Homo sapiens: one gene and its partners. The protein of the gene in region 3 interacts with the protein of the main gene of each other region in a biochemical or structural test. Each region holds a gene or a part of one and is shown on either strand. Other genes may lie near its edges.

The links.
Region 1: the proteins of UBE2C (region 3) and RNF7 form a complex in vitro, tested with the Homo sapiens proteins (4 studies listed by BioGRID).
Region 2: the proteins of UBE2C (region 3) and ANAPC11 form a complex in vitro, tested with the Homo sapiens proteins (66 studies listed by BioGRID).
Region 4: of the proteins of UBE2C (region 3) and UBA1, one has a biochemical effect on the other in vitro, tested with the Homo sapiens proteins (5 studies listed by BioGRID, with this or other methods).

The regions. Positions count from the first base shown.
Region 1 is NC_000003.12:141,741,286-141,748,069, reverse strand, and holds the end of RNF7 (RING-box protein 2), read right to left. Parts: intron 5,427-6,784; exon of another isoform or gene 5,163-5,426; intron 4,562-5,162; coding exon 4,514-4,561; exon of another isoform or gene 4,513-4,513; intron 2,912-4,512; coding exon 2,793-2,911; 3' UTR 510-2,792; downstream 1-509. UniProt on the Homo sapiens protein: Catalytic component of multiple cullin-5-RING E3 ubiquitin-protein ligase complexes (ECS complexes), which mediate the ubiquitination and subsequent proteasomal degradation of target proteins.
Region 2 is NC_000017.11:81,887,032-81,894,737, forward strand, and holds the start of ANAPC11 (anaphase-promoting complex subunit 11), read left to right. Parts: upstream 1-4,691; 5' UTR 4,692-4,810; exon of another isoform or gene 4,811-4,832; intron 4,833-4,895; exon of another isoform or gene 4,896-5,075; intron 5,076-6,072; exon of another isoform or gene 6,073-6,156; intron 6,157-6,520; 5' UTR 6,521-6,583; intron 6,584-7,435; 5' UTR 7,436-7,446; coding exon 7,447-7,555; intron 7,556-7,706. Other genes in the region: ALYREF (THO complex subunit 4), read right to left, coding at 1,100-1,114, 1,210-1,387, 1,489-1,552, 2,151-2,298, 3,658-3,789, 4,292-4,549. UniProt on the Homo sapiens protein: Together with the cullin protein ANAPC2, constitutes the catalytic component of the anaphase promoting complex/cyclosome (APC/C), a cell cycle-regulated E3 ubiquitin ligase that controls progression through mitosis and the G1 phase of the cell cycle.
Region 3 is NC_000020.11:45,808,472-45,815,644, forward strand, and holds the start of UBE2C (ubiquitin-conjugating enzyme E2 C), read left to right. Parts: upstream 1-4,172; 5' UTR 4,173-4,224; coding exon 4,225-4,325; intron 4,326-4,523; exon of another isoform or gene 4,524-4,819; intron 4,820-4,965; coding exon 4,966-4,993; intron 4,994-5,912; coding exon 5,913-5,999; intron 6,000-6,918; coding exon of another isoform or gene 6,919-7,069; coding exon 7,070-7,173. Other genes in the region: DNTTIP1 (deoxynucleotidyltransferase terminal-interacting protein 1), read left to right, coding at 643-714, 2,414-2,469, 2,586-2,724. UniProt on the Homo sapiens protein: Accepts ubiquitin from the E1 complex and catalyzes its covalent attachment to other proteins. In vitro catalyzes 'Lys-11'- and 'Lys-48'-linked polyubiquitination.
Region 4 is NC_000023.11:47,196,808-47,203,828, forward strand, and holds part of UBA1 (ubiquitin-like modifier-activating enzyme 1), read left to right. Parts: exon of another isoform or gene 1-183; coding exon of another isoform or gene 184-217; exon of another isoform or gene 218-1,395; coding exon of another isoform or gene 1,396-1,548; intron 1,549-1,583; exon of another isoform or gene 1,584-1,649; intron 1,650-1,995; coding exon 1,996-2,112; intron 2,113-2,240; coding exon 2,241-2,299; intron 2,300-2,401; coding exon 2,402-2,570; intron 2,571-2,672; coding exon 2,673-2,807; intron 2,808-4,086; coding exon 4,087-4,193; intron 4,194-4,468; coding exon 4,469-4,559; intron 4,560-4,670; coding exon 4,671-4,803; intron 4,804-5,348; coding exon 5,349-5,446; intron 5,447-5,550; coding exon 5,551-5,697; intron 5,698-5,830; coding exon 5,831-6,007; intron 6,008-6,135; coding exon 6,136-6,240; intron 6,241-6,326; coding exon 6,327-6,407; intron 6,408-6,733; coding exon 6,734-6,889; intron 6,890-7,021. UniProt on the Homo sapiens protein: Catalyzes the first step in ubiquitin conjugation to mark cellular proteins for degradation through the ubiquitin-proteasome system.

The DNA of each region.
Region 1 (6,784 bases), on a different chromosome or scaffold from region 3:
TATACTGCAGCCTCAAACTTCTAGGCTCAAGCAATCCTCCCGCCTCAGCCTTCAGAGTAGCTGAGACTAGTGTGTGCACCACCATGCCTGGCTCCATGGCAATAACTTAAAAAGCAGCAAAGTGCTGCTTTTTCGTATTTCTTTTTTTTTTTTTGAGACAGAGTTTCGCTCATTGCCCAGGCTGGAGTGCAGTGGTGCGATCTCGGCTCACTGCAATCTCTGCCTCGTGGGTTCAAGCGATTCTACTGCCTCAGCCTCCCGAGTAGCTGGGATTACAGGCACCTGCTACCACACCCGGCCAATTTTTGTTAGAGACAGGACTTCACCGTGTTGGCTAGGCTGGTCTCGAACACCTGACCTCAGGCAATCCACCCACCTTGGCCTCCCAAAGTGCTTGGATTACAGCGTGAGCCAACGTGCCCATCCATGTCCAAGCATTTCTATATTGAAATACAACTGAATTACAAGTTCTTTTTAGTTCTGTCATATAACAATTACATACATTTAAATTATATGTGTAGGAAATATATTTATGAATTTCACTTCATGACAGTAAAGGGGGACACAGTATTTTTATAAAAAAGGAAGCAATGGGACTGACAGAATTAAGATTTACTGATAGCGGTCAGCTGTAATAACACAATTTGCATAGAGGGAAAATTAAATAGCGAAAGATAACTTGTTTGTTTCTAATGCAACAGTAAAATAAAATCAGCACATTTAATCAAATGGAAAGAAAAACCTGTTTGATGCTTAACTTTTGTATTGGAACCCAAAATTGTCCCGGCATGTTCCCTCTGATGAGTATGTATTAAACTTTCAGATGGCTGTGCAGATGAGCTGTAATCATCGCAGGCTGAGCAGCATCAGCGCTGCTTTGTCACAGTGCCTCCTCTTCCCTCAGATGCTGGTGTGTGGCATAAACAGGGCTTTGTTAGGTGGCGGGACTGTGGTTTTGCTGTGTGGAAAATCAAATTGTTACCACCATCCTCCACATTTCATTTATATACTGTCACACTGCCTAAAGTAACCTGACATTCTACTGCTTTCCTCTTCAATGCAAAGCCATGTATCTGGTTCACATTTTAAGGATGCAACCTTCTAAAAAGGTCAAACAGAAAGTTACTAAAACAGTTCACTGCACAATGATAAACATTTAAATGGCCAAAGATATTTGTATAATTTTTTCAGTAGCTAGAAAGACAACTGTGAAAAAATATAAAGAAAAATTTCCAGAGAAATGTGATCAATAAAAAGTAACCCATATAAAAGCATACATAATTTTAATTTTTCATTCTAATTGTTATCTTTTTAAACATTCTATGTATCCACATCCCTTAGATTGAAAAATTCAGAATGGCACACTGCATCTGCAGATGTGAAAAGTTAAGATTCTAAGGTTTTTTCTTAAATTCATATCAGTAGCCTCTACTACAGAAGAATACAAAATGAACTTGTGGTCCATTATTTGTTACAAAATAACCTCCCCTCAGTGTGAATCAGTTTGATAAAGTTGTTTAGTATTTTCTTGCACTCTTTCCAGGTAATAAACCTTAAATTTTATTATTGTCAAATGAAAGAGCAAATGAATATGAATTCTTTCAAATTAAATGAAAGTATTTACTTGACAAATTAAGGTTGCATATAAAATTATAATGACAATTCAAATAAGGTAAGCAGAATAAACCATTTATTAAAACACTGTGTGATAAACTTTTTGATCCAATGCTACACTGGTAAACATTTTCCCTCATTAACATGTTACCTAAAACACAGTTAAATTATATCATCTGGGCCAGGTGCAGTGGCCCACACCTGTAATCCCAGCACTTTGGGAGGCTGAGGTGGGCGAATCACCTGAGGTCAGGAGTTTGAGACCAGCCTGGCCAACATGGGGAAATCCCGTCTCTACTAAAAATACAAAAATTAGCCGGGTGTGGTGGCACACACCTGTAATCCCAGCTACTCGGGAGGCTGAGGCAGGAGAATCACTTGAACCCGGGAGGCGGAGGTTGCAGTGAGTTGACATCATGCCACTGCACTCCAGCCTGGGTGGCAGAGCAAGACTTCACCCCCACAAAAAAAAAAAAAAAAAATTATATCATCTGACCAGAACTAGAAAATACTTCTGTCCTTTACCACTCAATGATTGAACAGTGAGGTGAGTGCAGATCTAGGTTTTCTTGATGAATCAATGATACAGAATAGTAACTTTAAAGGCAATCAAAATTCCATATGCTCAAAAGTTAAATTTTATTTACCCTGTTCACTGGCCCAAACTTAAAATCCTTATATCACATAAAGATTTCATGGACCGTTCCCTCTCCCTGCCAAAAATACGTATTAGGAACAAATTAAGAGTAAGAGTTGGGTTTTAAACTGCACTTTATTTGTTACTGTAACATTCTTTTTTAACTGATCAACCATAAGCATGCAAAAAGTTCTCTGAAACTGCTTCCACTGCCTGTTGTATAGAAATGGGTAAATTATAAAGGTGATTCAATTTGGAGCTCTTTCCTTTTTTATAGCACTTCTAAGCTGTGTGCGCGACACACACCACAGAGGTAGGAAGGACCACCTTTAATAAATTATCTTCTTAATCGCAGAGAATTTCTGAAGATAAAACTGACAAAATGCTAAACCAAGGCTTTGATGAGTCCCAAAGGACCACAGATCCATCGGCTCCTATTTGAAGAATTCATCCCCTGTAGTGTTCTAGCCTTTGTAGGGCACTGGATTACAAGATCCACCAGGGCTCTGAACAACTGCGCTAAGAAGCCTTCTAACCACTCTCATTTGCCGATTCTTTGGACCACCCAGTCCTGCTGGCAGAGAGGGCAGCGATTGTTCTGTTTCACCCACAGGGACATGCAGCAGTTGTGGAAGGAATGATTACATTCTCCCCAGACCACTGAAAGAAAGAAAAAGAAGAGTTGACATTACATATTTCAATTTAAACACTGAACTCAAAATTATAGCTTATTTTATATTACAAATAATAATCTTGAAAAAAGATAGTTAATTGGCCAAAATAATGTTTTTCTATCTATAAAGAAACAGAAACTTAAATGTGTAAGTTACACAGAGACATAAGTCACTGTTTGAGAGCCTTTCCATCACTGTTCTAGAATCTATGGGTGATGTGATGACCCCTAGTTCCTACACAGCTCCACATGCTGTCTTCTTGAAGTTAGATGAATGTTCTTGAACCTTCCTTAGATCTGACCTTCTCAGTCATGCACTGACCTTAGAGATCTTCTGGGCTTTATTTTATGGGAAAATGTCCTTCCAATTTTTATTTACCAAGACAGAATGAGTTGTAAATGTTTTTAGTATGCAGTAGGCTATTATAAATAACATGCTTCTAAACATTCAGTTGTGCATCTGAGCTGAGCTGTTTTCTAGAAGTGATGAATTGTGTTAAGTCACCCATAAGCAGTGCAATTCCTCATGTGACGATGAAATTTTCAAAGTGGCTGGCTGGAGAGAGAGGTCTCTCTGTGATCAAAGAAAGTGGCCTGCCCCTCACAATTCCCAAATTAATACTTTTTAAACAAGCAGCATGAAAGAAAAACTTTAAAACAAGGGAAATCATCCACAATCTAGAATGCAATCTCGAATTTGGGATTCATCTGTCCCTTGCTTGATCAACTGAGCTATATGACAAGAGAAAAAGATTAAATGAAAGAAATAAGGCAGAGAAAAAGATTAAATGAAAGAAATAAGGCAGAAAAAAAGAAAAAAATGCCTATGAAAATTGGCTACAGGGGGTAGGAAGCAAGGGTGAAACATTCTAAGCGTTTCAGGAGGAAGAACTGGATCAAAACTGCAAGAATCAATATTAAGAAGTTCTATGTACACCATGTATTTGTGTTCTACGTACACCATGCAAACACAAAATACAAAGCCAATCTTTTATTCTAAGAAAATCTATAAACATGTTTATATAGCAATCTAGACTTGATCACCTCAAGAACTAGGGCATAAAAATCTTTGAACTGCCTAAAATATTTAGCCTACGACAACTTTTGTAGTCTAAGACTCTAAAGAAAATTTGATACACAAACCACATTCCAAAAATATACTTGAGACTTAGAATTTTTCTACTCTGGTTTTAAAGTTAAATACTGTATTATAAGAGTATTGAAAAGTGAAATGCCTTATTAGAACCAAAAGTGACCTATAACATAGCCAAAATTCAAATAATGTTTTGACAAATTTCTGATTTTATAATTTTCTTAATAGAAAATATTTAATTTTTGATTACCAAAATGTTTATTATGACCATGTCTGGAATATATAACCAATTCTTCTTAATTATGGCAATAAAAGGACTTGCAGGTTCATTCCATTAAACTCTTTTGAGAACCAACATATTTTATATTAACAATGGATCACTGCTTTACAGTTTATTTTTGTGTATTGATAAAGTCAATCTTAATTTCAAATTCAAACATCCCTACTGAGAGAAAACCTTCAGTTGAAAAAGCAAGAGAACAAAATTACAACATACCAACACAGTCCTCTTGTTTGTTTTCAGCTTGACATCTAAGACAGGCATCTAAAAGTAAACAAATAGCGATTCTCATTCTGATGCTCAGAATGCAATTTTTAAAAACCAGACACTTCAAAGTCAAAAGCCCTAAGGGTTAGGGATGGCAATAAAGACTCATACTATTAATTTCTCATCTGAACATAACTACTTAAAGAGGAATAAAGTACAAGGCATTCTACTAATTATAACCAGGAGCAATTTCACAAGGGTTAACAAATCCTCTATTTTTATAAGCTCTGATGAAAAGATGTCCTGACGGTGCCAAGAGAGAAAACTACTAGAGAAAAATATGCCATACTCCACTATATTCAAAGTTACCATACGCTTACTGGGCATGCTCATGGACAGTTTATTTTCAAGACACCCTTTAAATAAACCATATATATATGTTAGCATTTGTTTATACATACATCAAGAAACACTAGGATACCCAAGGAACCAATAATAAAGTTTACTGGGAGGGTTTGGAATGGGAAGGAGAGTTTTCACTCTTCCAGGTAATATACATAACTTCCTCAATTTCTGAACTATATGAATATATAACTTATAAAAAATTAAATTAAAAAATTGCTTCATAAACAAGTTTTTTAAAGTCATCCATACTTACTGACACAGAAGCCTTCCTTTAGCAACTCATAAGAAGCAACTTTTTACTTTCTACCCTAAGACACTTGAGAGTTCCTCTAAAATAAACTGCTTTGTATGCTTCCAATAGGTTGCTACCGATGGTCATCCAGACAAGGCTGGTGAGAAGCCAGTGAGACAGAGGGGACAGCGAGGGCTGTGGAGCCAGATCTACAGTCAAATCCCATTTCACTGGCATTTATTAGGTTCAGGGCCTCGGACCAATTACGAACTCCAATTCCCTCATCTGTAAAAAAGGGACAATACTGTGAGGTATTTATATATTAAGTGGGGATGATACAAACTGGTGAGAATTTTACAGATAAAATAAGTAAATACTAGATATCCCTAAACACTAAGGTTTTTTCTTTGTAAGAAAATGCTCGCCTGTAATCCCAGCACTTTGGGAGGCTGAGGCGGGCGGATCACGAGGTCAGGAGATGGAGACCATCCTGGCTAACATGGTGAAACCCCGTCTCTACTAAAAATACAAAAAATTAGCCGGGCGTGGTGGTGGGCGCCTGTAGTCCCAGCTACTCGGGAGGCTGAGGCAGGAGAATGGCGTGAACCCAGGAGGCAGAGCTTGCAGTGAGCCGAGATAGCGCCACTGCACTCCAGCCTGGGCGAAAGAGCGAGACTCCGTCTCAAAAAAAAAAAAAAAAAAAAAGAAAATGCTTGAGAGCTAAATGATGAGAACACATGGCCACATAGCAGGGAACAACACACACTGGGGCCTTTTGGAGGGTGGAAGGTGGAGAGGATCAGGAAAAATAACTAATGGGTACTAGGCTCAATACCTGGGTGATGAAATAATCTGTGCAACAAACCCTTGTGACACAAGTTTATCTATGTAACAACCCTGTACTTGTAGCCCTGAACCTAAAAGTTTTTTTAAAAAAAAAAAGAAAGAAAGAAAATACAGATAAGTCTGAGCCCAAAGTATTTACCCAACAATGGTAAAGTCTTTTAATAAATTACTTTATTACTGGTTTCTTGGGTATCCTTCTAGAATTTCTTGATGTATATATAAACAAATACTAACATTATATGTATGGGTTATTTAAAAGGGTGCCTTGAAAATAAACTGCCCATGAGCATGCCCAGTGAGCTTATAGTAACTTCTAATATAGTGGAGTAGGTGTAAATACTAAAAATGAGATCCTAAAGGCTGTACTAGAAGTTTTCAAAATTCAATCTGGAATACTATCAGCTTAATGAAAAAAGTAATATAGAATATTTTAGGGAGCAAAAATGGACTCATTCACTAGCTGGAAGAGGAGTCAGAGTTGGGTAAAAGGAAGTTTGAACCAACAGAAAATAGTTTTTAACATAAATAGGAGAAAAATAATTCTGTAAAAATAGAAACACGGTTAAGTTGAAGCCTGCTTCTCTTCTTACACTGGATTCTGCTCAGGCATTTGTTTGCTCCTTTCCACATGCTCTTACCCTTAAAAAAACACCACTGCCCTAGTCTCTTCAGTGTGGATTAAAAACAACCACTGCCTCCTGAGGTTTTCTTCAATCCCACAATTACTATCTCCTCTGTGCAAGGAGTTATGCACTGGGGACACCAAAATGACCAAGGCTGGGTCTCAAGGGGCTCAG
Region 2 (7,706 bases), on a different chromosome or scaffold from region 3:
CTCCACCTCCCTGGTTCAGGCGATTCTCCAGCCTCAGCCTCCCAAGTAGCTGGGATTACAGGCATGCACCACCACACCCAGCTAATTTTGTATTTTTAGTAGAGACGGGGTTTCGCCATGTTGGCCAGGCTGGTCTTGAACTCCTGACCTCAGGTGATCTGCCTGCCCCAGCCTCCCAAAGTGCTGGGATTACAGGCGTGAGCCACCGCGCCCAGCCGCCCCACTCTTAAATGGACGGATTATCACAGCTTCCACCAGCCACTTCATCAAATATACAACTAAGAGAGGATCCTCATGCCTTGCTCCGTGGCAAGGTTAAAAACAACAACAAAAAAACAAACAGAAAAAGGAATTACACTACAAAGTCAAAACTGCTGAATCCACGTTTCTCTGAAAACCAGAGTACAAGAAGGAAAGGAACAGCCCAGAGATGTTCTGGCTGTGGGAAGCCTGTGGACGGCACACAGGGCAGCCATCCCACCCCAACCTCCCCTCACCTGGAGGCACAGGCACAAGGGTCAACAGGTGGCTCCCGGGCAAAGGTGTCCTCCCACCTGGTGAGTTAGAGAGGAAGGTGTTAGGTGTGAGGCAGGAAAGAAGATAAGAAAGAAGACAGGCAGCTTCGGCCCTCCAGGAGCGGGGACCCCCCGCCACCCCCACAACCCATGCCAACTTCAGGTGTCCAACACCAGATGGGGCTGCTCCCTCCATCCCCAACTCAGGTTCTCCCACCCCCTCCCAGCTGGACAGACACCAAAATCCTGGCCCAGGCCTGGACTCCAACAGTGGGACGAATCAAACAGTTCCAGTTCTACACACATTTCTATTTTATTATGGAAAAGGTGGAAACGCCACCTTCTCCACAACAGCAACCAGTAAAATTTATCCCAAAAATAACTCGGTACAAAACAGGTCTGTTTCAGAATTAAAAAAAAAAAAAAAGAAAAAAAAAAAACCTTTACATGAGTTTTTAAATCCTATTTTAAAACATAAAAGAAACAAATCCATCATTGGCCGCACAGCCCCAGCCACCGCCCCCCAACCAGGGAGCAAGAGGAGACGCCTGGGTCCTGTTCCGCACGCGGATTTGCTGGTCTGTTTAACTGGTGTCCATCTGAAACACAGAGGAGAAAGAGGCTTGCATTCACAGGCGGCCTGCTCCCCACTGCGGCTTTGACCAGGCCCCCAGCTGGCTCCCCCGGGACTCACTCTCGCATTATAGGCGTCCAGCTGGGCATCCAGCTCCTCTGCCGAAAGCTGCTGCTTTGAATTCCTGCCGGCACCTCTGCCTCTTCCACGGGCGCCTCCGCGGGTGCCTCTCCGGGTGCCTCCACCACCACCAAAACCTCCAGCGCCACGGTTTCTAGTCATGCCACCTCTGTTTACGCTAGCAAGGAAGACGAAACCGTTCACACACCCGGAAGGACCCTAAGAGCGACGCAGCCTCACCCTCGGCCAATCCCCTTCCCCAGAGGCCCCGGAAGTCACCTCTGTGCAGGCCTCCGCTGTGCGTCAATCTGTGACGTGACAAGCTGAATGTTCATGGGGCGGCCTGCGGCAAAGAATACGAGAAGGCACGTTCTATTGAGAGGCTCTGAAACCCACCCAGCTGGCGCCACACCCTGGTCTCCATGCAAACACTGGAAAGGGCCTCTGTGCGTCTCAAATGCCCCCGACAAGGGAAATGGCCTGGAGATACTGGTGGGAGAACAAAATGGCAAGGAAGCAACCCCACCAACACCTCCTCACTCCTTCTCAGTCCAGACTAGGTGGGCTGCTCGCTGAGGTATCGGGGTGCTCGTGGGTGGAGAGGTGTGGGTGACCTGACGAAGAAGAACCGGTACCTTTGTCTTTACGACTACAGCCCCGCACTCAGAGGTGTACTATGGCGGTTCTGAGAAGGCTTCACAGAAGTGAATCTTCCGGAAGGAGCTGAAGGAGGGGAGGGATGTAGCTTGCTGGATGGGGGTTCACAAGAGGTTGGTCCAGATGTGTGGGGCAGCATGAGAGGTGGCAGATGGAAGAGAGAGACAAAGGGGCAAATGCAAAGTGTCCTCAGCCACAGGGGTACCCCATATTCCTACCTGGACAGGTGCCAGCCCCAAACTCCACAAGCCCCACAGTCAGCGTGGGTCCACCCCCAGACTCACCATCCAGAGGGACGCCGTTGTACTGCTTCATGGCCTTCAGGGCATCTGCCTTCCGCTCAAAGTGCACGTCTGCTGTTCCTAAGCTGCGACCAGAGCGATCATAGTGCACAGCCGCCTTCTTCAGCGTTCCAAATTCAGCAAAGAGTTCCTGGGAGTTGCAGAGAGCAGTTGTCAGAAAAGCAACAAAACTGCGTTCCTTCTGGTGGCCCAGGGACAGGCCCTGGAAGCGTGAGTTGCTTTGGGGGTGGTTCTCTGGGAGGCAGGACAGTGGTTAACGGGAAATGAGGGAAGGGCGGGGCAGGAGGGACAGCAACTTCCAAGAGCACCTGGGTCTGAGGGCTCCTGCCATTGTGGGGACCTGACACGTGTACCACGATGCAGGTAGAGGAAGCTGCAAAGCCCACTAGCAACGGGCACAAAATTAAGCCACTATCCTCTTCAACAAAGGAAAATGTACAACACACCCAAGGGCTGTTCCAAGAAACGGTAAAGGCCAAAATCAAGAGCAAGGGAAGCAGTCCGATATCAGACCAGCTTGAAGGGCCTGTAGATTCGGGAGCCCTGACCCCAGCCCCTCCCCCAAAGGCAGATTCTGGCTCACCTTTCCCTCTCCTCCTACTCAAGCCTGCGGCAAAGTCTGAAGTCAAGCGCTGTCATGGAAACTGCCCTGACCTCAGGCAGGCTGGGAGTTGGAGAGGGAACCCAGAGTGTGGGGATACTCCGGCCGCAGGCACACAGCGGGAACTGGAGTTCACCAAAAGCGGTTTCCAGTGGATGCTAGAAACCACCTTAAAAAAAGTGTTGAGACACTGTGAGTGCTCACTGGCCCTACTCTGTCCTCCCAAGGCAAATGGCTGGGCTGTGGGCAACTGAACCCTGCCCAGCCATCTCCAAAACTGATTCCCAAAAAGTCATTTCTTAACCAGAAAACAAGTTGAAATGCCATTGGGATTCAATTTTTCTTTTTTTAAAAAAGAAAAGCTTCAACCAAAGATGGATTTGAGAGTCATGTCACTGACGGGACACGGCGGTGGGGAGTGATAAAACCACAGCGTACAAGGTCTTTATAAGACAGTACTCAAGGCAAACAGAGCCAGAAAAACAGACTCCCTGTGCTTCACAAGATACATAAAGAAGATTCTTTTTCTCACATTAACCCACTAAGACAGGCACAAAATTTAAAAAGCAACTGGGCTGGGTCTAACAGCCAAAAACCACTCACATTTGGTCAGTCTTTGTCCCTGTTAGAAACTGGAAGCCCTGGCAGGGGATTTTCACTCACAGAACCCATCTTCAGACTAACAGCAGCAGTTCCTCAGGCTCAGCTAGGCTCGCACCTGCCTGCGCACTGACCCCGGCTTTACTAGCACTGGGTCTGTCCTGCAGCCCTTCAGAGCTGGGAGGGCTCCCTTCGCTAAGGCGGGAAGGGGACTCAGGGCCACATCCCCAAAATCACGATCCGTCCTGTGCAGGGCGAACGGCTCACCGAGAAGCCCTCGTCTCTTACCTGAATATCGGCGTCTGAGACTCCAAAATCCAGATTGGACACCAGCAGTTTCCCACCTGTCTCCACGCCGGCACCACCGCCGAAGCCACTGTCGAAAAGATCGTGCTGCCACTTGTCGGGAAGTTGTTTTGGCTGAAAAAAAAACCGCAACAAGAGCAGATCTGTGAGTCTCAGTCCAGGGCTTTCCTGACCCTCACGGCTACTCCGGACCCTTCCTCTTCCCGGCCTGAGAGGATCCGGCCGAAACGGGGCCGCCAGCGCTCCCTCCGGCGCTGCAGCTGCCCCAGCCCGAGGCCGCACGGTCCCACCGCGGCCGCACAACTTCAGTTCCCTTAGACTAACTTCCCGCCGCCTGTGCCGCGCCCAGCGTCCCCTCCTCTCCTGCCACGAGGCCCCAACGTCCGGAACAAACAAAGAGCTGGGAAGGGTCTCAGCCTCCGGGACCGGACCCCGAAAGAACGACCTCGCTCCCGCCCACCACCCCCTCCGCGCCCACACGCACCCTCCGGACCTCCGGGCGGCCGCTCCACCAGCCTTATCCACCCGCCGGCCCGGGTCTCCGCCGCGAGCGGCCCCGGCCCCAGCCCCGGCTGGCCCCCTCCCACTCTCCGGCGCGGCCGGCCTCCGCACTCACCCTGCTGTAGGGCGCCGGTCGGTTCCTGCCGCCTCCGCCGGCCGCGCCGCGGGCGATGGCCGGCCGGTTCCGGATGGGCCCGCCGCCTCGATTCACTCGCGCGGCGGCCTGCGCCCCACCGCCGCGGCCGCCCTGGGAGCCGGCCCGGCCGCGGCCCCGGCCCCCGCCCCGGCCGCCTCGCTGGCTCCGGTTCAGTTTAATGATGTCGTCCAGAGACATGTCCATTTTGTCGGCCATGGCGGGCGCGGAATCGGGCATCGGCTCGAGCCCGCGCGTCAGCACGCCGGCACGTCACTTCCGGCGCCGCGTGAGGCCTTCCGGTGCCACGGCCTCGGAGCGGCTGCTGATTGGCCGCTGGCGGACGGCTGCGCGCGCGGGACGGGGTGAGGCGGGGAGGCGCGTGCGCACTGGCGTGCGAGACTCGGCGGGCGCTGTTGAGGGAGTCGGGCCGCGACTGTGGTCGTTTTTATACCTTCCCGCGCGGACGCCGGCGCTGCCAACGGAAGGGCGGGTAGGGCGGTGCGTGATTAGGTTGGCGAAGGTGCGAGGGCGCAGGGGGTGGGGCGGCGGCCGTTGGAGGCGGAGCCTACGCGCCCCTCCCTCCCCGCACGCTCCGCCCGATCGGCCAGGGCTGGGGGCGCTGGGGGCGCTACGGGCGCGGCGGGTGCCTGGGAGCTGCTGGGAGTCCTTGTTTCCGCTCCCGCCCAGGACTGTGCGCTCGGCTCGCGGTGGGGTCCGGCGGGCGCGGCTTCGGCGGGCGGCAGCCGCTGCAGACGAGCTGCGGGTTGGTTTTTTGGTCTCCACCTGCAGCCCCCCCAAGTCTGCACTGTCACATTTTGCCAGTCATATCCTTTACAAGTTTTCTTGCGGGCCGGGCGCGGGCCTCACGCCTGTAATCCCAGCACTTTGGGAGGCCGAGGCAAGAGGTTCGCTTCAGCCCAGGAGTTTGAGACCAGCCGGGGCAACATCGTGAGACCCCCATCTCTAAAAAAAAAAATGAGCTGGGCATGGTGGTGCACTTCTGTACTACCAGCTACTTGGGAGGCCGAGGTGGGAGGATTGCTTGAGCCCAGGAGGTCGAGGCTGCAGTGAGCCGTGGTGGCACCACTGCACTCCAGCCTGGGCGACAGAGCCAGACCCTGTCTCCAAAAAAAAATTATTTTTGCAACTTATTAATGAAAACCAGTGTGCCATTTCATTGATTTTTTTTTTTTTTTTTTGAGGCAGTCTCATTCTGTCGCCCAGGCTGGAGTGCAGTGGGGCGATCTCGGCTCACTGCAACCTCTGCCTCCTGGGTTCAAGCGAGTCTCCAGCGGCAGCCTCCCGAGTAGCTGGGACTACAGGCACGTGCCACCATACCTGGCTAATGTTTGTATTTTTAATAGAGACAGGGTTTCGCCATGTTGGCCAGGGTGGTCTTGAACTCCTGACCTCAGATGATCCGCCCGCCTTGGCCTCCCAAAGTGCTGGGATTACAGGCATGAGCCACCACACCCAGCCCATTTCATGGATTTTAAGTTGTTTTGAGATACTTGCTTTTGTTTTTGTTTTTTGAGTCAGGGTCTCCCTCCGTCACCCAGAGTGGAGTGCAGTGGTGTGATCTTGGCTCACTGCAGCCTCAAACTCCTGGGCTCGAGCTATCCTCCCACGTCAGCCTCTCAGGCAGCTGGTGCACGCCACCACAGCTGGCTTTTTTTTTTTTTTTTGAGACAGTCCCACTATGTTGCCCAGGCTGGAGTGCAGTGGTGCGATCTCGGCTCACTGCAATCTCTGCCTCCCAGGTCCAAGTGATTCCTGTGGCTCAGCTTCCCGAATAGAGCTGGGAGCTGGCGTGATCTCAGCTCGCTGCAACCTCCGCCTCCCAGGTTCAAGTGATTCTCTTGCCTCACCCTCCCGAGTAGCTGGGATTACAGTTGCCCACCACCACACCCGGCTAATTTTTTGTATTTTTAGTAGAGACAGGGTTTCAGTATGTTGGCCAGGCTGGTCTTGAACTCCTGACCTTGTGATCTGCCTGCCTCAGCCTCCCAAAGTGCTGGGATTACAGGCGTGAGCCACTACGCCTGGCCTCTAATTTTTGTTTTTTTGGTAGAGATGGGGTTTCACCATGTTGGCCAGGTTGGTCTCGAACTCCTGACCTCAAGTGATCCACCCTCCTCGGCCTCCCAAAGTGCTGGGATTACAAGCATGAGCCACCACCTGCGGCTAATTTTTTTGTATTTTTTGTAGAGACGGAGTTTCGTCATGTTGGCCAGGCCCATTTGAGATCTTTGAAGATATCCTCAACGTGAGGTAAAACCAAACTCCTGACTGTCCTGTGCTCCCAAATGTGATCTCCTTGTCCGTAAGGAGCTGAGTCCCTTCCCTTGGAGAGAAGAGTGTGCCCTTTCTCTAGATGGCTAAAGAAACCTCACAGATAGTTCTTTTTTTTCCTTTTTTTTTTTTTTTTTTTTTGGTAGAGACTCAGTCTCACTGTGTTACACAGGCTGGTCTCAAACTCCTGAGCTCAGGCGATCCTCCCGAGTTGGCCTCCCAGAGTGCTGGGATCACAGGTGTGAGCCACAAAGCGGATTGCTGCTGGGGCTTGCTGTTCTCCCGTAGCTCCCCTGCAGCCCTGACCCTCTGGGCCCAGAGCCCTTTACTTGTTATTTGTTTTAATAGAAACGGGGCTCATAGCAGGGCATAGGGGTTCACGCCTGTAATCCCAGCACTTTGGGAGGCCGCAGTGGCAGATCGCTTGAGGCCAGGAGTTCAAGACCAGCCTGGCCTACATGGTGAAACCTCGACTACTAAAAATACAAAAATTAGTCGGGCGTGGAGTCACGTGCCTATAGCCTCAGCTACTCAGGAGGCCGAAGCACAAGAAATGAGCTGAGATCATGCCACTGCACTACAGCCTGGGTGACAGAGTGAGACTCTGTCTCAAAAAAAAAAAATTAATAAAAATAAAAGTAAAATAAAATAGAAACAGGGCTCACGATGTTTCCCAGGCTGGGTTCGGACTCCTGGGCCGGTATGATCTTCCTGCCTTGGCCCCCTGAGTAGCTGGGACTGCACTGTGGCAGGCTTATACCTGTGTTGGTGCCTAAACGTTCTAGCTCTGCAGACTCAATTTAGCCAGTCGTCCTGTTCCCTCCGCCGCAGGCTCTGCTGCCATGAAGGTGAAGATTAAGTGCTGGAACGGCGTGGCCACTTGGCTCTGGGTGGCCAACGATGAGAACTGTGGCATCTGCAGGATGGCATTTAACGGATGCTGCCCTGACTGTGAGTGTCCCCTCCATGCTGTCTGAGCGGCCCCGACTGTGAGTGTCCCCTCTGTGCTGTCTGCTGCCTGCTGGACTAGCCTCAGTAGCTCCTGTTAAATACCTGCACGAAATACCCAGTTTCATTTTCTTTTTTTTTTTTTTTTTTTGAG
Region 3 (7,173 bases):
CTCTACTAAAAATACAAAATTAGCCGGGCGTGGTGGCGCATGCCTGTAGTGCCAGCTACTTGGGAGGCTGAGGCAGGAGAATCGCTTGAACCCAGGAGGCGGAGGTTGTGATGAAGCAAGATCATGCCATTGCACTCCAGCCTGGGCAACAAGAGTGAAACTCCGTCTCAATCGATCAATCAATCAATCAATCAATAAACCAACCAACCTTATTTGTAACTCCAAAACCGAATTCTTAACCATGATGCTATTATGCGTCCGAGAGTACATGAGGTGTCCCGATTTTTGTTTTATTATGGTCACCATAATAATTACAGACGTTATAAGCCACCTCCGATCATTTTTTAAAAAGAGGAAGCTCTAAAATAATAGTTATCAGTCCCACCAGTTGCCCGGGGTGCTTTGTTGTGAGAAGGGGGTGGGGATTGGGAGTATACTAAGTCTCTGGGAATTGGGTCCCATGGTCTGCCCTCGGGGTTGGCTTAGCTTTCTCTGAAGAGATTAGTGAGCCCTCTAAGTCCACCACGCTTGGAGACAAGGACTTTTGGTAAGAACTGCTCAAGGGCCAAGAGTATGCTCTGGGACCAAATGAGAAAAGCCCCTTACCCGAGGCTAATTTTCTTACAACTTCATTCCTTACAGTATGCAGCTGACCCCCAGGATAAGCACTGGCTGGCTGAGCAGCATCACATGCGGGCAACAGGGGGCAAGATGGTAAGCATTATTCATTTGTGCCACTGCCAGTGACCCACCCCACCTGGGAACCAGGATTTTGGCTGTGGGTGACAGCCTACCTCCAAATCTGACTTCCAAAGCCTCACCAATGTGTGAGAAGAGAGACTTATAAGGCCTATTTCTTCATGCTGAAGAGCAAATTGTAATCTTCAGGTTCCCTTCCCTATCCCTAGGTCTCCCTTCCGCCCCCTCACACTTTTACCTCATGCCTCCAAGATCACATATTTGGATACTATTAGCTGTCCATAGGAATAGCAGGTATAAGACACACAGTACTACTTTTTCCCACTACTGCACCCACTGACAGATTTCACTCATTGATCACTCTTCCACCAGACACAGCTATAGAATCTTTTCTCAACACAGTACTTGAGGCAGCAACCCTTGTCAGTAGGAGTTAGCAATGAAATGTGTTTGCACACTTGGCAGCCCCTTCCAGATTTACCTCTACTTGAAGAGTTCTCAGATCATATGAAACAGCAACCTTAGGAAAATCATCATTGCATGTGTTCAAAAACTATTGTTGAGGGCTTTGTCCATCACACACAATGTCCCCCACCTGAGGACTCACTCACTCCCACCACAGGTACTGCTCCTTTTAGAATCTAAGTGCCTTACAAACTGATATGCCATCTCCTTTCTGGCAGTGAGAGCTACCTTTTATTTTATTTTACTACTCTATTTATGCCTATGCTTTACTTCAAAAAAGATTTCAGGTAAGCTTCATGCACATAAAATGCAACATTACATAAATAAGAAATAGATGGTAGGGGGTGGGGGCAGGACCTAAAATTAAGCCACCAGTAAAAGTAGTTCTTTAAAAAAAAAAAGTGTTTTTTATATTGCTGACCTGGGAGACCTGTGCACTTCTACAGATGTTGGCAAATTCAGCTGTAGGCCCCACTCATGGACACCTGATCTGTTATGGTTCATAGTGCCCATAAGATGTAGACAAATTACTCAAGGAATACACAATTATTCCTGACCCTAACATTAGAAAGTCTCCCACAGAAGACTTTCTAATATGATGAATATCTCTTCCTATATGTTAAGTTCACAAAAGGGCCCTCACCCACTGTAGACCGAGGCATTGTGACAAAGCATTTCTACAGGCCCCAGTACAATACAGGCCAATTACTAGACAGCAGAGCAGTTTATCATGTTTTCCATTTTGCCACAAAGTTCAAAACCAAGTTATCTTTGTCCTCAGAGGGAGCACATGGTTTCCTCTTCCTGATTTCCTGTTTCCATATATATTTTGCTGGCTTTCTTGCCATTTTGTTATAACCCACCTTGGGTCCTTTCGTATACTTGATCTTAACCAAAAGGTGTAGGAGCAATGGTGGATCCCTTTTTTTTTCTTTTTTTCTTTTTTTTTTTTTTTTCTTAATTTTCACCACACCATTCAAGAGAGAAATGGGTCCTTTTTTAAAAGAGAAGGCTATAAATAAGTCACCAGTCCCTACTCTCCCATCCATGAAGCATCTACTGTAGTAAAAGATTGTCTCAAGGAACCATTCCCATCCCTCCCCACTTACTCTTCCGTACTAAATTGTAAACCGCATCCCCCGCTTCCACCTAGTAGCAGGCCTTACATTAAACAGATGTTTAATGAAGTGTTACTGAGTTGGAGTGAAATGAATCAGGCAATGACCACTCTCCCTTGCTCCTGCCTCAGGCCTACCTCCTCATCGAGGAGGACATCCGGGACCTTGCGGCCAGTGATGATTACAGGTAAAACCAGTGGGTCTCCTGCCCCTTCTCCTCTCCCTGCCTCCAAATAGCCCCTAGAATGAGGCAGGGCCTACATCCTCACTTCCCCCAACTTCTCTCTTCAATGTCTGTTCCAGAGGATGCCTGGATCTGAAGCTAGAGGAATTGAAATCCTTTGTCCTACCCTCCTGGATGGTGGAGAAGATGAGAAAGTATATGGAGACACTACGGACAGAGAATGAGCATCGTGCTGTTGAAGCACCTCCACAGACCTGAGGCCGGGTCCCCTGGCCACACTTGGCAGCCCTCCTCCAAAGCCCTCTTCCTCACGTGGCTGAGGCCACCGCTGGGACTGCTCCTAGATGGATCTCAGCGGCATTAAGCTGTGCCTGAGCGAGTTTGTAGTGACTCACTGCACAGCACCCCCAGACTAGCATGTGGTTCTATATTTGTAAAGTTATTGGGATAAGAAACAATTAAACAGTTTGTAGTAAACACAGATGGTGAACCTGCTGTGCCCTCTACCTTGTGGGAATTGACAGAACATCAAGGGCTCTAGAAGTGGGTGTAGGAAAAAAGGACGAGATAACCCTCACCCATAACAGTATAGAGCCAGGCTTGATAAGACCAACCTGGGAGCACCATGTACCCTGCCCGTCTTCCCTTTGCCCATTTGTAGTTTCCTTACCCAGCTAATGTAAGGACATGGCAGAATGCGATGGAGTTTGATGACAGATCATATGAAAAATAGAGTTGGCTTTTATTGCTCCCATTTTACAGGTTAAGATACTAAAGGACCCGCCCCAAGGTTACACACTACCCACTGGGGAGGTAGGATATACAGGATATGAACCTGTGTTGTTGGGGTTTTTGTTTGTTTGAAGACAGTCTTGCTCTGTTGCCCAGGCTAGAGTGCAGCCTCTGGCTCAAGCGATTCTCCCGCCTCAGCCTCGCCAGTAGCTGGGACTACAGGCTCGTGCCACCTCACCAGCCTTTTTTTTTTTTCTTTTCTTTTTTTTTTTTTTTCTTTTAAGTAGAGACAGGTCTCCCTATCCTGTTGCTCAGGCTGGTCTCGAACTCCTGGGTTCAAGTGATCCTCCTGCCTGGGCCTTCCAAAGTGTTCGGGATTACGGACGTGAGCCACTGCGACCAGCCTGAACCAATGTTGCCTTTTTTTATTTCTGTCATCTCTGCGGAGATGTATGGACCTATGTTTTCTAATAGGGAGCCTGCTGCTCTGGCCATCAGCCTTTAGTTTTTCCCCTCGCTGGGATTTTCAGATACTTAGGACGCAGCAAAGGTGCCCAGGCGATTATAATGGTGGGAGGGTACCAGTGCTGCAGGATTGGAGGCACTCCCTGCCCGAGGGAAATTGGATCAAGGCTGGGCGTGCCGAGTGTTCCCACGCGGAGTAAGACGTGTAGCCAGAAGGAGGGGTTCATCCCACGTGGACGTTTTCTTGGCCCTTTAATGGTTAGCGTTTTCCAACGGCCACCAATTCGCTACGGATTCGTTAGTTAATGGCAGCATCATCTACCAATCGGTTGTCAGAAGCGGGATTCTGCCGCCCAATAGCGGTGCGCCAGTGGGTAGGTCTAGCAGTGGCGCAGCAATAGAGCGCTCCGGAGCGTCTCATTGGCTGGATCAAACCCAAGCGAGCCATTGATTGGTCGACGCCCCCAGAGGGTTACAATTCAAACGCGGGCGGGCGGGCCCGCAGTCCTGCAGTTGCAGTCGTGTTCTCCGAGTTCCTGTCTCTCTGCCAACGCCGCCCGGATGGCTTCCCAAAACCGCGACCCAGCCGCCACTAGCGTCGCCGCCGCCCGTAAAGGAGCTGAGCCGAGCGGGGGCGCCGCCCGGGGTCCGGTGGGCAAAAGGTGAGTGATGCGGCCTACCACTCGCCGGGCCTGCCATGCCCTAGGCATTGGTACCCAGAGCAAAGATTTCTAGGACCACCCCCCGCCGCCACCTCCTGGAGCGGGAGATCTGCGGGTGCAGGAGAACACACCAGGAGCTCGGGGCCTGGCATTCCCCTGGGCATGGGTGTCGAGGGCGGAGACTTCCGGGACTCCCACCTCCTTGCGCGGGTGAGATTCGAGAGATGGGGGACAGGCCAGGAGCTCAGACCGCTCTTTGAGACTCTCCCGAAGGAGAATGGGAGGGTAGGGGCGCTGCCAGACTCCTTCCCTGGTGGGCCTAGATGAAGACGCTCAAGGACCCTCGTGACTTGGCCGAGACAGGGGAAGGGAGAAGTTGAGTCGGGCAAGGAAGAGATGCTAAAGCCTGGGGAATTAAGAACATGCCAGAATCATCCCGAGGGAGTCTGGAATTAGGGAGGGTGAGGACTCGCTAGGATCGTCCTGTGGATCTGGTGAGTATACCCTGAGCTGAGCCTGACCTTGGTGATGTGGGGAGCCTCCATGACGGCTCCCCCTGAGATTCAGGTGGGAGAAGATGCACCGTCTGGAGGCCTGGCCCATCCAGACTCCCAGGTAACCCCGAATACTCTTTTTTCAGGCTACAGCAGGAGCTGATGACCCTCATGGTGAGTGATTAAGTGCCCAGAACCCCAGCCTTCCATCCAATTTTCAGTAGCCTCCTTTTTTCCGTCAGCTTTTTTGCTAGACATAGGGGTAATGTAATTTGCTCCCTCCTGGGAAAGAAGTTCATACACCCCACCTACACCATTTCTTCCAGCAGTCCCTCCTCCCAATTCCATCCCCCCACACGAAGTTATCTCGAACACTTCCCTGAAGTCATACAAGACCCTCCCTATCCAGTGTGTCCCTACTTCCTAGCCCCAACCAAGCTTTACCCACACCCAACTCCCCGCCCTTCTTGGTATTTCTAGCCTATGAATTTGGTTGCTTTATTTTGGATCAGAGTGATGAGATTAAGGGGAGGCTGGGCGCGGTAGCTCACACCTTATAATCCCAACACTTTGGGGGGCTAAGGTGGGCGGATCACTTGAGGTCAGGAGTTCGAGACCAGCCTGGCCAACATTGCAAAACCCTGTCTCTACTAAAAATACAAAAATTATCCAGGCATGGTGGTGCATGCCTGTAATTTCAGCTACTCGGGAGGCTGAGGCACAAGAATCATTTGAACCGTGGAGACAGAGGTTGCGGTGAGCCGAGCGCACCACTGCACTCTAGCCTGGGCGACAGAGTGTGTGTGTGTGTCTGTCTCTGTCTATCTCTCTCTCTCAATCTCTCTCTCTCTCTCTCTATATATATATATATGTAAATATATATTTTTTAGTAGAGATGGCATAACCCCATCTATATCTCATATATATACACATATATATGTGTGTGTGTATACATATATATGTGTGTGTGTGTATGTGAGCATATATATATATATATATATATATATATAAAATTAAGGGGAAAGCTCACCCACTGACCTTTGCTATGCCCAAAAGTGTACTCCACATTCCAACAAATGTGTTTTCTCCCCAGATGTCTGGCGATAAAGGGATTTCTGCCTTCCCTGAATCAGACAACCTTTTCAAATGGGTAGGGACCATCCATGGAGCAGCTGGAACAGTAAGTGTAGGGCTGGGATGGGTGAGTGAGTCTGGGGAAAGGTGGGAAGTGAGATCCAAGTGCGAGCTCTGCTTCAAGCCTTTGGCGGAGCAAGACACTCCTCCTGTGACTGTTTACATTCTCTGAGCCATGTGGCCTTGTTCTTTCCCTCTGTGCAATAAAGGGTGGGTTTAAAGCAGGGCTGCCTATCTTAGATGTTTACATGGGGGGACAGACAGCAAGGAAATGGATGAAGTGAGGACTTTGGCCAATAGGGCCAGATCTCAAGAAGGCAGCTTCCCATTGCTGCAGATCAGGTTTAAGATGAGTCAGAAGTCCAAATCTGTGCCAAATCTAATTTTTACGTATTAGCAACTAATATTCTTTTTTTTTTTTTTTTGAGACGGAGTCTCGCTCTGTCGCCCAGGCCAGACTGCGGACTGCAGTGGCGCAATCTCGGCTCACTGCAAGCTCCGCTTCCCGGGTTCACGCCATTCTCCTGCCTCAGCCTCCGAGTAGCTGGGACTACAGGCGCCCGCCACCACGCCCGGCTAATTTTTTGTATTTTTAGTAGAGACGGGGTTTCACCTTGTTAGCCAGGATGGTCTCGATCTCCTGACCTCAAGATCCACCCGCCTCGGCCTCCCAAAGTGCTGGGATTACAGGCGTGAGCCACCACGCCCGGCCAGCAACTAATATTCTAATTGAACTAAAGCACAGGATGCCAATTTACAATCCTTAGACCAAAGAGTCACTGATGTCTCCACCAGATAAGAGGAAAGCATCAGGCTAGGCATAGTGGCTCACACCTGTAATCTCAGCACTTTGGGAGGCTGAGGCAGGCAGATCACATGAGCCCAGGAGTTTGAGACTGGCCTGGGCAACATGGTGAAACCCTGTCTCTAAAATAAAAACTAAACTAAAAAAACTTTTTAAAAAGGCAGTGGGGAGCATCAGAACCAGCTCAACAGTTTGTCTACTGTCCGGTCCCAGAGAAACTCAAGATTCTAGCAAGCCCCTTGTGTGGGGCTTGGGTTGGGACATGAGGCTGCTGCTGGAGCTTACTCTGCAACTGTTTCTCCAAATGCCAGGTATATGAAGACCTGAGGTATAAGCTCTCGCTAGAGTTCCCCAGTGGCTACCCTTACAATGCGCCCACAGTGAAGTTCCTCACGCCCTGCTATCACCCCAACGT
Region 4 (7,021 bases), on a different chromosome or scaffold from region 3:
CATGTCCCAAACAAACTGACCAATGACAAGGCAAGGAGATAACTAAGTAATAGAGGCCACTACACGTGCCCAGGGAGGAACTCACATCCTCAGGTCAGTGAGTTCTGACCACAGACCTTGGCTTCTTTAACCCTGCCAGCAGCCCCTTGAAGACAGTTTCATTTGTCCCAGCTTTTGGAGAAAATGAGGCTCAGAGGAAATGAGATCTCTACCCCAGGTCAGTCAGAGAGTCAGTAAATGGAAAATATGGTTCACCTTTGTCTCTACTAACTCACCAAGCCTCTTGCTACCCAGGTTGGCTCTTAGCATTCTAAGCAATTCACCTGGCTATCTCAGGGGCTCCAGCCAGCCTGCTGCCTCCCCTCATCTCCCATTCCTTAGCCCTGTGGACTGGGCCCTGAGCCCAGGGGCATTTGGCAAACAGTCCCCCACCAGCTGCATGCCTCTGGGCGAGTGAATGGGGTTCTCTAAGCCTTTCTTTTCCCATTTGTGATTTGGGCATAGGGTTATCTGGGTCATGGGGATTGTTAAGATTAGACAAAGCCCTTTCCTCTTTGATTGACACACAGTATGCTCTTGGTAGATAGTAGGGAGCTCTTGTCATTGTGGTTGGTGCTAGTGACAAGTGCCAAGATGGAATCTTAGGTACATTGGGATACTTAGTGTCATAAAAGTCTCAGTGTGGGAGGACTTGTGTGAACAGAAGACTCAGTGCCTAGAGGAGCACTTGGGGTGAGGGGAAGTGACGCTGGGTCCTCCCATCTCCAGCATGTGGACCCAGTCACCCCCACCACCAGATTTCACTTCCACAGCAGGCTTTATTGTTCTGTCTCTGGGACCTAGCAGGTGACCCTGGGCAAGTTACTTCTCATTTGTCCGGCAAGGACACTAAACTCTGCCTTGCTGGGTCAGGGTCATGGAGGGGATGAAACGTGATAACACGAGGAAGCAGCCTGGGCTTCAGAGTCAGCAGATCCTGGTCTGGTCCCAGCTCAGTGTGTGGGAACCTTGGTCACCGAACGTCCCTGAGTGAATTTTTTTCCATCACTTTAAAGTTGGGGGTATTATTGATAGCAGTCCAAACCCCACAGGAGTACCCTGAGGACAGAGTGAGACGAGGTTTAGAGAAGTGCTTACTATGGCATCTGGCACAAGGAGGACTCCTGATCAATCTAATACTCATTTATCATTGTGGTTAACCTGTTTAAGGGACTCCGCATGCAGATGAGGCTTGGGATGTGTTTGTTTTCTATCTTTTTGCAACCTCTTTTATTGGTCTGTGTCGGTTTTCCCCTCCCAAAGCTGGGGGCAGGGTTGGGCTTTATAAAACTTGAGCCCCTCTGGGGACTGGGTTCTCAGCAAGTTACCGCTCCTGCCATCATGCCACCCTGATGGATGTCCAAGCCTCACTTCCCTCCTGCACTCCCCGCTCCCGCCGCCATCCCTGGGATTAAGGGAGAGGAGAATGGCTGCTTGTTACTGCCTACCTACTCTGTGCCAGGTTCTATGCTCTGTGTTATTTATCATCTCGATAACCCCGTGGGGAAGGTAAGTGGTATTATCACCCCTGTTTCACAGGTGAGAAAACTGAGGCCTGTGGCGGTTAATTATTACTGTTAGTGCGTGGCAGGCTCAAGATTTGAAACCAGGTCTGTCCTGAATCCACATCCTTCCCCTGACCTCGACACAAGTACATTCTTGTCATTCCTTTCACTCCAGGATTGGAGTCTCTCCCTCATTATGCTGGGCTGGGAAGAAGCAAATGGCTTAGTGGTCAGCAGTGTGGATTTGCAAATCAGACCACCTGGGTTCAGATCTTAGGTCTGACAGCTGTGTTACCCTGGGCAAGTCCTCACCTTTCTGTGCCTGTCCCCTCTTTGCTGTAAAATGGGGGTACTAATACTTAAGTCTTCCCTTCCCCCACAGTTGCTACTAACAAACAGAAAAACGGTACCCATGTGCTCCAGGGTCACCTCTGACCTTTTTTTCCTCCAGATGTCCAGCTCGCCGCTGTCCAAGAAACGTCGCGTGTCCGGGCCTGATCCAAAGCCGGGTTCTAACTGCTCCCCTGCCCAGTCCGTGTTGTCCGAAGTGCCCTCGGTGCCAACCAACGTGAGTGTCCTCTCCGTGGAGACTGGCAGACGAGGTGGTGGGTGGGAAAGTCTTTTGTATCACTGTCTGTCTATCCATGCTCCACTCCTGTGTGTCTCCCTAAACTTGTTCTTTTCCTCTATTCCTAGGGAATGGCCAAGAACGGCAGTGAAGCAGACATAGACGAGGGCCTTTACTCCCGGCAGCTGTAAGTGGGGCCAAGGCCGGGCTGAGGGGTGTGGAATGGGACATTGAGAGGATAAGGTTGGGTGGGGCAGGCCCTGACCTAGAGTACCCCCTAACCTGGCAGGTATGTGTTGGGCCATGAGGCAATGAAGCGGCTCCAGACATCCAGTGTCCTGGTATCAGGCCTGCGGGGCCTGGGCGTGGAGATCGCTAAGAACATCATCCTTGGTGGGGTCAAGGCTGTTACCCTACATGACCAGGGCACTGCCCAGTGGGCTGATCTTTCCTCCCAGGTACCTCTTCCTAGCACCCTTCCCCCTTTCCCCCTTCCCGAGGCACCACTGTTCCCGGTGCCACAGCCATTTCATCTTTTTCCCTACTGCACACCCTTACAGTTCTACCTGCGGGAGGAGGACATCGGTAAAAACCGGGCCGAGGTATCACAGCCCCGCCTCGCTGAGCTCAACAGCTATGTGCCTGTCACTGCCTACACTGGACCCCTCGTTGAGGACTTCCTTAGTGGTTTCCAGGTATCTTGGGGGTACTACCCAGCCTTCTGCCCAGTTTTCTCAGAGCCCATCTCTGGTTTATTCAGTAGTGTTCAATATTGATTTAATGGGTCGGCCTGAATGTCAGGTTTTGTGCTGGGGGACTAGAGTATGCAGGCAGCAGTTAGCCCCTGGCCCTGCCTTTTCTTTTCTTCTTTTTTTTTTTTTGAGACGGAGTCTTGCTCTGTCGCCCAAGCTAGAGTGCAGTGGCGCGATCTCGGCTCACTGCAAGCTACACCTCCTGGGTTCACGCCATTCTCCTGCCTCAGCCTCCCGAGTAGCTGGGACTACAGGCGCCTGCCACCACGCCCGGCTAATTTTTTTTTGTATTTTTAGTAGAGACGGGGTTTCACTGTGTTAGCCAGGGTGGTCTCGATCTCCTGACCTTGTGATCCGCCCGCCTCCGCCTCCCAAAGTGCTGGGATTACAGGTGTGAGCCACCGCACCCGGCCTGGCCCCGCCTTTTCAAGTGGGGAAGATGTGTACAGACAGTACAGCATAGTGGTTGTGGGCACAGACTGTAGAGCCATACTGCCTTGCTGCAGGCCTCCAGCCTTGGTAGTGTGACTTCAAGCAGGTTGTTTCATCTCCTGTACCTTTGTTTTCCTGTTTGTAGTCAGTGCGTGGTAGCAGCACTGACTTCATGGACTTTTTGTGAGGGTTAAACACGTGGAATTGCAGCTGGCATATAAGGACTGGATGGGTGTTTGTTAATTAAAAAGTCCAGGCCGGAAAGAGGTGCTCTGGAAGCTGAGAGTTGTCCCTGGAGTATCCCAGGTTGCCAGGGCACTGCAGCTAAATCCTGATGGAGGAGTAGGAGCTCACCCTGGTGGGGAAGGATGGACATTCAGGCAGAGAGCAAAATCCCAAAGATCATGGCGGAGCAGGCGTCGTCTTGAGAATTGGAAGCAGGTGGGTGTGGTAGGAGTGAGCTCAGACTTTGGCTGGAGACAGAGTTTTACTCCAGTGTCTCACAGGGCATGGCAGACAGACAGCAGCGGGTGTTTGTCAAATAAATGAGTCAGCTCTTCTCCAAACTCCCTCCTCCCAGCTACCTCTTCACCTTTCCTGGTATAGTCCAGGGGTTCATTTTCGACCCCCACAGAGTCTGATACACAGTAGGTGCTATGTGTTTGTGAAAGAGGCTGACCCAGCAAAGCCTGGATGTGTTTGCCTTGAGGACTGCCTGAGTCCTCCACACCAGCCCTCCATTTTTTCCCCTTCACCCCAATGCTGGGCCTGAGCCTCCATCTCTCCACAGGTGGTGGTGCTCACCAACACCCCCCTGGAGGACCAGCTGCGAGTGGGTGAGTTCTGTCACAACCGTGGCATCAAGCTGGTGGTGGCAGACACGCGGGGCCTGTTTGGGTGAGTGGCAGCCCACCTCCCTCCCTGTCCCCTTTTCCCCCAACTCCTACCAAGCCCAGGCCAAGACTCTAGGCTCTCCCTGCCCTCATCCCTTCTCAGCTACCCAGGTTTTGGGTTCTGTGTTTTCATCTCTCCCCATGTGGCACAAGTACCATCTTACATCCCAGCAGTGATAGGCTGAGTTTGCTCAGCAAGTTTTCACTACATCTTGAGGGACCCGTGGGACCTGTATGTGCATGGGACACAGGCACCAGCCCTATTGCTTCCCTCTACAGGCAGCTCTTCTGTGACTTTGGAGAGGAAATGATCCTCACAGATTCCAATGGGGAGCAGCCACTCAGTGCTATGGTTTCTATGGTTACCAAGGTAAGGAGACCAGCCCTAGGGTTCCTGGCAGGCAGGTGGGCTGCAGTAGTCCTTCCTGTCTGCTCTTGGTACCCTGGGCCTGTTTCTGAGACTCACTCTTCCTTTAACCAGGACAACCCCGGTGTGGTTACCTGCCTGGATGAGGCCCGACACGGGTTTGAGAGCGGGGACTTTGTCTCCTTTTCAGAAGTACAGGGCATGGTTGAACTCAACGGAAATCAGCCCATGGAGATCAAAGTCCTGGGTGAGCTGCGACCATGGGGGAAGCAGAGGGGAACTAGAAGATATGTTCCTGGGTTCTGGCCGGGGAGTTGAAGGGAGAAGACATGGCCCTTGGTTCAGAGTTGGGAAGACACATCCTGGTGTTTGAGATGAACTACAGACAATCCTGTGGGGTCCAATAAGAGCTGGTGGGCATGGGGGAGAGGTACTGTGTTTGAGCTATTCCTGGGAGAATGTGTCCCTGGTATCTGAGCTGAGTGGGGAAAAAGTCTCTGGTGTTTGAACAGGGCAGATCAGCGGATCTACTTGTGTGTGAGCTGATTTGGATGGGAAGCAGAGAAGGTCTTCCCGTGTAGACTTGGAGCCAGGGACACAGGGTCTCACGGGGTCTGAGCTGAGTCTGGGGCACAGGAGAGATGGTTTCTGATGTCCAAGTGGAGCCTGGAGCTGAGGGAAGACAGCTTCTGATGTCTGAGCTGAGTCGGGGCAGGAGGTTCCTTATCTTGCAGGGGTTGTGGATTTTAGGGAGAATGGGTAGACTGACAGCTCTCTTCCTGCCCTCTGTAGGTCCTTATACCTTTAGCATCTGTGACACCTCCAACTTCTCCGACTACATCCGTGGAGGCATCGTCAGTCAGGTCAAAGTACCTAAGAAGATTAGCTTTGTGAGTGTGTCGATGGGATCAGTGGGCTGTGGGGGGTGGTTCTAGGCATTCCCTAGTTCTCCATTCCTCTCTTCTGGTTCTGATGACCTCTCCCCCCGCCACAGAAATCCTTGGTGGCCTCACTGGCAGAACCTGACTTTGTGGTGACGGACTTCGCCAAGTTTTCTCGCCCTGCCCAGCTGCACATTGGCTTCCAGGCCCTGCACCAGTTCTGTGCTCAGCATGGCCGGCCACCTCGGCCCCGCAATGAGGTGGGTGAGTGGGCGAGCCAGCCAGCGCAGACATGCCTGGCACTGCAGGCTCACCATGCCTCTCTGCGTGTCCACACTCCCTGCCCTCACTGTGGCCTGACATATCCTCTCTTGGTTCTTTCTGGCCCACCAGGAGGATGCAGCAGAACTGGTAGCCTTAGCACAGGCTGTGAATGCTCGAGCCCTGCCAGCAGTGCAGCAAAATAACCTGGACGAGGACCTCATCCGGAAGCTGGCATATGTGGCTGCTGGGGATCTGGCACCCATAAACGCCTTCATTGGGGGCCTGGCTGCCCAGGAAGTCATGAAGGTCAGCACGGGTGGGGAGAGGCAGGATTGGGGTGGGCCAGGTTCCTCCATGACTCTGTCACTTGCTCTCTGTCTGTGTCAGGCCCCTGTTAACCACTGACCACCCCCTCTCTCCCTTCCCCTCTCCAGGCCTGCTCCGGGAAGTTCATGCCCATCATGCAGTGGCTATACTTTGATGCCCTTGAGTGTCTCCCTGAGGACAAAGAGGTCCTCACAGAGGACAAGTGCCTCCAGGTATGTGGGTGGGACCTGTGGGGAGGGCATCATTGGGGACATTTCTGGGGAGGCCTCTCTAACCCTCCTCCCTTTGCATTCCTTAGCGCCAGAACCGTTATGACGGGCAAGTGGCTGTGTTTGGCTCAGACCTGCAAGAGAAGCTGGGCAAGCAGAAGTATTTCCTGGTAAGTGGTCCCCTTGGATGTCTGCTCCCCTCATCTTGGCCTCTGGCCATCACCCCTGGGGCTTCCTTCGGCATCTCAATGCAACCGGTGGCGCATTCTCTTTGCCATTCTCCTTATCTTGAAGGGAAGCCCAGTGCATCCCTCGTTTCCCCTTCTGGTGCCTCCTTCCTCACATGACTGCGTGTCATTTCTTAGAGTCCTGCAACCTGAAGATGTGGTGTTAGCCCCTCTCCCCGTCTCTCAGGGGAGTGAGGGGTGATGGGTAGCTTCACACTAACCTGCATCACCCTGACCAGCCTCTGCCTGTCTTCTTGGTTGCTTCTTAGGTGGGTGCGGGGGCCATTGGCTGTGAGCTGCTCAAGAACTTTGCCATGATTGGGCTGGGCTGCGGGGAGGGTGGAGAAATCATCGTTACAGACATGGACACCATTGAGAAGTCAAATCTGAATCGACAGTTTCTTTTCCGGCCCTGGGATGTCACGGTGAGTAGGGTAGGAGGTTGGGGCTTTGTCGTCTCACTTTCCTCCTTTTTCTTTTTTTTTTTTTTTTTGAGACGGAGTTTCGCTCTTGTTGCCCAGGCTGTAGTGCAGTGGCGTGATCTCTGGCCCACCACA